Homo sapiens: one gene and its partner. The protein of the gene in region 1 interacts with the protein of each later gene in a biochemical or structural test. Each region holds a gene or a part of one and is shown on either strand. Other genes may lie near its edges. The genes, in order: NUDT7 and PEX5.

Region 1 (4,360 bases):
GAGTGCAATGGCGCGATCTCGGCCCACTGCAAACTCCGCCTCCCAGGTTCAAGCGATTCTCCTGCCTCAGCCTCCTAGTAGCTGAGATTACAGGCGCCTGCCACTGGCTAATTTTTGTTTTTTTAGTAGAGATGGGGTTTCACCATGTTGGCCAAGCTGGTCTCAAACTCCTGACCTTAGGTGATCCACCCGACTTGGCCTCCCAAAGTGCTGGGATTACAGGTGTGAGCCACAGCGCCTGGCCCAGAGTCCACATTTTTAACAGGACCAAAGTGATCCTGATTCTGCTGGTCTGAGGACCACACTTTGAGAACTACTGCTTTCAAGATGAGCTGCACTTCTATTTCCTCTACCAAGCCTCTTCTGTCTCCTAATTGGGTCACATTTCTCCTTCACACGCTCTAGAAGGACCAAAGGCCACTGCTTTATCAGTGTGATTTTTTTTTTTTTTTTTTTTTGCATTAAAAACTTCTTATCTTCTTCTTCTTATTTTTGAGACGGTCTACCTCTGTCAGGCTGGAGTGCAGTGGTGCTATCACGGCTCACTGCAGCTTCGACCTCCTGGGCTCAAGCGATCCTCCCACCTCAGCCTCTTGAGTAGCTGGGACCACAGGTGTGTGCCACCACGCCTGGCTAATTTTTTATTTTTATTTTGTAGAGATGGGGTTTCGCCATGTTGCCCAGGCTGGGCTCGAACTCCTGGATTCAAGTGATCCTCCCCTCTTGGCCTCCCAAAGTGTTGGAATTACAAGCATATGCCACTGCATCCAGCCCTGTGTGATTAATTTATGTTTCTACCATTTGACTGTGAGCTCCACGTGTCTTTTCGCTAGCTGTGGGATCTGCACCCAGTGCATACAGGTGGTCGGTGAACAGGTGCTGACAGCAGTTCCAAAAAGTTGAATGAATCACCTTAACCTTCCAGCAACAGCGAATGCGAGTGTAAAATATTATCACCTCACCAACACTGTATTTTTTTTTTTTTTAACTCTTCCAGCTCTAAATTCCACAACTCCTCCTATACCTCTTGCTTCCATAGAAGCCCAAGGAGCCCGGCAGAAACTGCTTTGAGCAACCAGGAACACCCGGCCCTAAGTCCCGCCCCGCGCCTCTCCCCACCTCAAGTCCCGCCTCTGGCTATAAGCCCCGCCCCGCCCCGATCCCGGCCTCCGATCCCAGATCTCGCACCGCCCCGCCCCCTGTCTCCGCCCCAGACACCACCCCGCCTCGTGCTCTAAGCCCCGCCCCTCTCTCTGGCTTTAGGCCGCTCCCAAGCCCAGAGCTGCTCTGCGCAAGCGCGACCGACCGAGCAGCTCCGAGGAGTCCGCCCGGAAACAAACATTCCCCAGGGCAATGTCACGACTTGGTCTTCCCGAGGAGCCAGTCAGGTAAAGGCTTTCCGGGCCCTGGCACCCCGAGCTTGGTCAGGCCCGGCCTTGATCGTAGCGGAGGCCACCGGGGCCTTTTGGCCGGGACTGATTTTGCAGCTCCCGCCAGTCCACCTGCGAGCGCCGGATGGGGGAGCACTCGCCTCCAGCAACCCGCAGGGTCCCCGAACCTTTGCACTGCTCTGGCCAGGAACAGAGCCGGCTTAAGCCAGTATGGTTTACATACACGCTGCTCCCCTTCCCAGCCGGCTTGGCTGTTCTGCAATCCGCGTCTCCAGAGTTGGACCCCAGGACCCCCGACAGTGGCACAGACCCGCAGCAGGCAGCCCCGGATTCAAGTCCCCCGGTGGCTACTTTCAGTTGTGACCTTGGGTCTGTCAGTTTCGTAAACTCTCTGAGCCTGGAGGTGACCCTGTGATCACTTGCCGGGCTGTTGTGAGGATAAAATGAGAAACGTCAAAATTGAGACCATGCTCAGAACGGGGTGGCTGCTACTGCTGTTGATACCTTGGTGATTATTCCAGCGGCCAGCCCCTAAAGTGGACAGATAACGTTTTTGCAGCCTTTTACTTTGGCTGGTTTGTCTGGTCAGTTCTGTGGTTTCCGGGTGGTTAAAAGCCACCAGCCCACAGTTTCCTTTTCTGGAGGCTGGCCTGCGTGCATCCAGATGCACTGTGCAATCCCTGTGCCAGCATTCACTGATTTTTTTCAGGCCATTTGGTCTTTGAAATACACTGCCGTTACCCAACCACATCTGGTGAGCACCCTGCCACCTAGAAAGAGGCAAAAAATAGCAAATACCTCCTGCAAACAACTGCTTATCTAATGATGGGGAGATTTATGACAGTGGTTACCATTCCCTGAGCACCAGCTGTGTGCCAGCCACAGTATATGAACTGCATCATTTAATCTTCTTAAATATCCTCAAGCCTGACACAAATGAAGATGAAACTCAGAGAAGTCATTTGTATACACTTTTTTTTTTTTTTTTTTGAGACAGAGTCTCACTCTGCCGCCCTGGCTACAGTGCAGTAGGCAATCTCGGCTCACTGCAGCCTCTGCCTCCTGGGTTCAAGCGATTCTCCTGCCTCAACCTTCTGAGTAGCTGGGATTACAGGCATGTGCCACGATGCCCGGCTAATTTTTGTATGTTTAGTAGAGGTGGGGTTTTACCATGTTGGCCAGGCTGGTCTCGAACTCCTGACTTCAAGTGATTCACCTTCCTCAGTCTCCCAAAGTGCCGGGATTACAGGCATGAGCCACTGTACCAGGCCTCCTATATACATTTGAAGCCAATTCTGGGTATCTTAAATAGCTGATTCTGCCCACTATGCAAAGCTGCCTTCCCACAGAAAAAGTAAAATCAGCTGTTCCTTTTCTAGGGCTGCCATAACAGAGTACCACACACTGGGTGTTTTAAAACAATAGAAATGGTCTCTCATGGCTATGAAGCCTGGAAGTCCAAAATCAAGGTATCGGCAGGGCCTCACTCCCTTAGAAGGCTCTGGGGGTGACCTTTCCTTGCCTCTTCCAGTTTCTGGTGGTTTCTGGCATTCCTTGGCTCACAGCAGCATCACTTCAACCTCTGCCGCCATCTTCACATGGTCTTCTTCCCTGTGTGCATCTCTCCATGTTTTTTCTTCTTTTATTTTATTTTATTTTTGAGTCAGGTCTCACTCTGTCACCCAGGCCGGAGTGCAGTGGTGCAATCATGGCTCACTGCAGCCTTGAACTCTGGGGCTCAAGTGATCCTCCCACTTCCGCCTTCCAAGTAGCTGGGAATACAGTTGCATGCCCCATGCCTAAGCTAATTTATGCTTTTTTTTTTTTTCTTTTGTAGAGACAGGGTCTTACCATGTTGACCAGGCTGGTTTCAAACTCCTGGGCCCAAGCAATTCTCCCGCCTCAACCTCCCAGTGTTGGGATTACAGGCGTGAGCCGCTGCACTGGGCTCGTTTCTGCTTCTTATCAGGACAACAGTCATTGGATTTAGAGCTCACTTTAATTACATCTGAAAAGATCCTATTTCTGAATAAAGTCACACTCTGAAGTTTGGGGTAGACATGAATTTCAGGGGTGAGGGGATACTGTTCAACCCACTATACAAACTAGCAGTAGAACACACCTGTCAAAAGGACCAAAACAAGTCCACATAGGAAGGGCACCATTTGCGGTTTTAAATCCAAATGCTTGCATATTATTGGGAAATTGTTCTCAGAATGTGTTCCCCTGTCCACAGCGTCAGTAACGCTGTCATGAGGGAGTTTGATACAAATGCTAATTCTCAGGCCCTACACCAGAGTTACTGAGTCACAGTCTGGGACTGAACCTCGCAGTCTATGTGACAGCCAGCGCTCCAGGTGATTCTGTTGCTGCTAAAGCTTGGGAACCACTATTATAAGCAGTTGAAGACATAAGAGTTTGAGAACATAAGGGCCAGCTTAACAGAAGGTAGTCTTCTAACCTTCTAACCTTAACAATGACTTTTTCATCAAACCTGTCTTCTCTGAATATAATTATGGGTTTCAAAATTCAACTGTTGCATTATTGAAAAAACATTTTACCATACTTTATGTTTCAAAGAGAACCTGTGTACTAAACTGTGTGCTTAGAAGGTTTTTTTGTCATTTTCATCTTGCGAACAACCACGCAATTTAGATAGTATCATTTCTGTCGTGTTATTGAAAAATACACAGAGAGTCAGAAATGGCAAACTCCTAAATACACAACAAAGCAGAAACAGAGGCAGGACTATAAGCTTTTTACCATAACTCTGCTTGCTAAAATGTCTGTCTGGTTTGTTTTTATTTTAGAAACAGTTTGCTAGATGATGCTAAGGCCCGCTTAAGAAAGTATGATATTGGAGGCAAATATTCTCACTTGCCATATAACAAATACTCCGTCCTTTTGCCATTGGTGGCTAAAGAAGGAAAACTCCATTTGTTGTTCACCGTCCGGTCAGAGAAGGTAGG
Region 2 (2,955 bases), on another chromosome or scaffold:
GCACTACAACAGTAGAGGTGAGTAGTTGCAGCAGATCCACGAAGCCTGAAATATTTATTATCTGGCCCTTCGCAGAAAAAGTTTGCTGATCACTGGACTAGCGTCATTTTCTGCCTTCTTAGTTTTTATATTATGCAGAGATGTCCAAAAACACACTTGTTTTCAATATAAATATACTTTCTATACATTTATCTCAAATCTACTATAATATGTCTTTCTTCTTAAACCCCCCATTGTAATTATTTAATTTTCATTTGTGACAAATAATTTGCATCTGATCATGACTTAGAATTTTGCTGGTAAGATTTAAGTGTTTTTGATTCTTTATCATTTTCACAATAATAATGAAAAAGGGCCTCATGTCTTTATTTTGTACAGTTTTATCTGAATTTATTCTTAACTGCATTTAGAAAGACCTCCACCTGTTGTTTTGCATCTTGTTTTCGTTCTGGTGTATTATTTTATGATGGTAACTACTCTCCAAAAACGGACTTTTTATTTGCATGTCCCAGATTTTGCAGCTTACTAGTGACTTCCCCTTTACCTCATTTCTTCTCTGCCTAGTGTAAAATGCCAGTTGACAAAGCTTTGCAGATAGTATCGTAACTCTTCTCTAAAGTGAGAAATCCTCAGCTGGAAGAGAATGGTGTCTTTCTGAAGTATTCTCTGCCATCTGGATTTTGGGATCCAGCTTTTGCTTACTGTCAGATACAGATTAATATTCATGATTATTAAGAATGAAATCGGGGAATAAATTAACATTTTCAAAATGCTTGAAAATGTTTTATCTAGTTGACATGTGGAATGACTCTGAGCTAAGTAAGAGTTATATTTGAATAGCAGGACTCCAAACAACATTTCCTTTATACATCATCACATTATTGAAGGATAACAAGAAATGCACTTTGCATAGCTAGGGACACTTTGTCTCATTACTATAAGCAGATCCTGTTGAGACATTCTGCCCCGTGGTGAGAAGTCAAGGTGTGGGAATACAAGCCTGTGATGACTTCCTAAAATAAGCTTATTTCCAGCGCAGATGAATTTGTAGACTTTCCTAGCTTCCCAGGTATCATGAACAGGAGATGGGAGCACAAACCTGATACCAAATGATTTTACTTGTGTCATACATGATCTTTATAATATGGAGAATTTGCCAGCAATTAATTCCGGAACCTGTTTGGAGGCCCTCAGCTTCTCTGCCTGCTGGTTGTCATCCTCACATCCCTGCTGTTCTGACGGTGCCACCTCTCAGTCCATCTCTCACGTGCTTTTCTTGTAGGGGTACCAGTTTGAGGAGGAGAACCCCTTGCGTGATCACCCTCAGCCTTTTGAAGAAGGGCTGCGGCGCCTTCAGGAGGGGGACCTGCCAAATGCTGTGCTGCTTTTTGAGGCAGCTGTGCAGCAGGATCCTAAGCACATGGAAGTGAGTGACTCCATAGTCTCATTTCTGGCTAGAGACTGCTTCCTCCATCTTGAGAAAGGCCCCAAGGAGAGTAGTGCAGATGGGTTAGGGCCTGGGTGATGGCCTAGGATAGGGGCTTGAGAGCGAGATGGTGAGTGGGAGAAGCCAGGGGGAAGGGCGAATGGAGAGGTGAATATGGGGTGATGGAATCTGTCAACTTCCCTCTAGGCTTGGCAGTATCTGGGTACCACCCAGGCAGAGAATGAACAAGAACTATTAGCCATCAGTGCATTGCGGAGGTGAGTACACTGAAAGGTGTGGGTGAGGTGCTTCCAAGGCTCTGCATATAACCTTTTGAATGACAGAAGCCCAGACCTGGATCCTTGTCTTCTTTCTGAGTGCTATCAAGAGTGTTTTCTCATGCTGAAACTCTGAGGGTTGGAGTGAATTCCATTCCTTCATCGGCTTTTGATTTTATTTGCGGCTTTGGTTGGCTCCTTGCCTGCTAAAACCTTCCCCTTAGATCTGTAACTTTATTATTAACTCATGTCAGAGGAGTCACAGGTGAGGCCATTGTGACTCTGCATTTCAAAGCTTGGCTTGGATCCCAGGGTGCTCACATGTGCCAGTGTCAGTCATTGCAGATATCAAGTCTGCCCATCCCTGATCAAACAGGTGTCTGGAGCTAAAGCCAGATAACCAGACAGCACTGATGGCGCTGGCTGTGAGCTTCACCAACGAGTCCCTGCAGCGACAGGCCTGTGAAACCCTACGAGACTGGCTGCGGTACACACCAGCCTATGCCCATCTGGTGACACCTGCTGAAGAAGGGGCTGGTGGGGCAGGACTGGGCCCCAGCAAGCGTATCCTGGGATCTCTCTTGTCTGAGTGAGTATGAGGGGTTCCTAGGATGAGGAATTACAGTAACCTAAGTCCCAGTAGGAGGGTGACCTTGGTTTTGGAAGTTTGGATGGATTGAGACTGAAGGGTCCTGAGAATGGGATGGGAAACCTAGGATCAAGTTGAAGGAGGTCTGCATTCTACAGTTCAGTGCTAGGATGAAATAGAAAAACAGGCTTCTATATTGGACTTTGAGAGTAGAAGAGATGACTGATAGATTGATGAATGTTGGGGATATGGTTGATCAATGAAGAAATTAATTTGGGGGGATGGGAATAGAGACATTCATCTACCTACTTTGTGTTTTTTTCCTTTTCATCCAGCTCCCTGTTTCTTGAAGTGAAAGAGCTCTTCCTGGCAGCTGTGCGGCTGGACCCTACCTCCATTGACCCTGATGTGCAGTGTGGCTTGGGAGTCCTTTTCAACCTGAGTGGGGAGTATGACAAGGCCGTGGACTGCTTCACAGCTGCCCTCAGCGTTCGTCCCAATGTGAGCCCAGGGGAGGAATGGAAATGGGACATGACTGTGTACCTTATTGAAGAGCCATTTGTTGGGAAGCTGGGTTTGATGGTGCATGCCTGTAGTCCCAGCTACTTGGGAGGCTGAAGTGGGAGGATCACTTGAGCCTGGGAGTTCAAATCCAGCCTGGG

What was found.
Region 2: the proteins of NUDT7 (region 1) and PEX5 interact in a test that uses a peptide from one of them, tested with the Homo sapiens proteins (one large-scale study listed by BioGRID).

The regions. Positions count from the first base shown.
Region 1 is NC_000016.10:77,721,230-77,725,589, forward strand, and holds the start of NUDT7 (peroxisomal coenzyme A diphosphatase NUDT7), read left to right. Parts: upstream 1-1,284; 5' UTR 1,285-1,353; coding exon 1,354-1,388; intron 1,389-4,201; coding exon 4,202-4,355; intron 4,356-4,360. UniProt on the Homo sapiens protein: Fatty acyl-coenzyme A (CoA) diphosphatase that hydrolyzes fatty acyl-CoA to yield acyl-4'-phosphopantetheine and adenosine 3',5'-bisphosphate. Cleaves CoA, CoA esters and oxidized CoA with similar efficiencies.
Region 2 is NC_000012.12:7,206,377-7,209,331, forward strand, and holds part of PEX5 (peroxisomal biogenesis factor 5), read left to right. Parts: intron 1-1,282; coding exon 1,283-1,426; intron 1,427-1,633; coding exon 1,634-1,704; intron 1,705-2,080; coding exon 2,081-2,293; intron 2,294-2,628; coding exon 2,629-2,794; intron 2,795-2,955.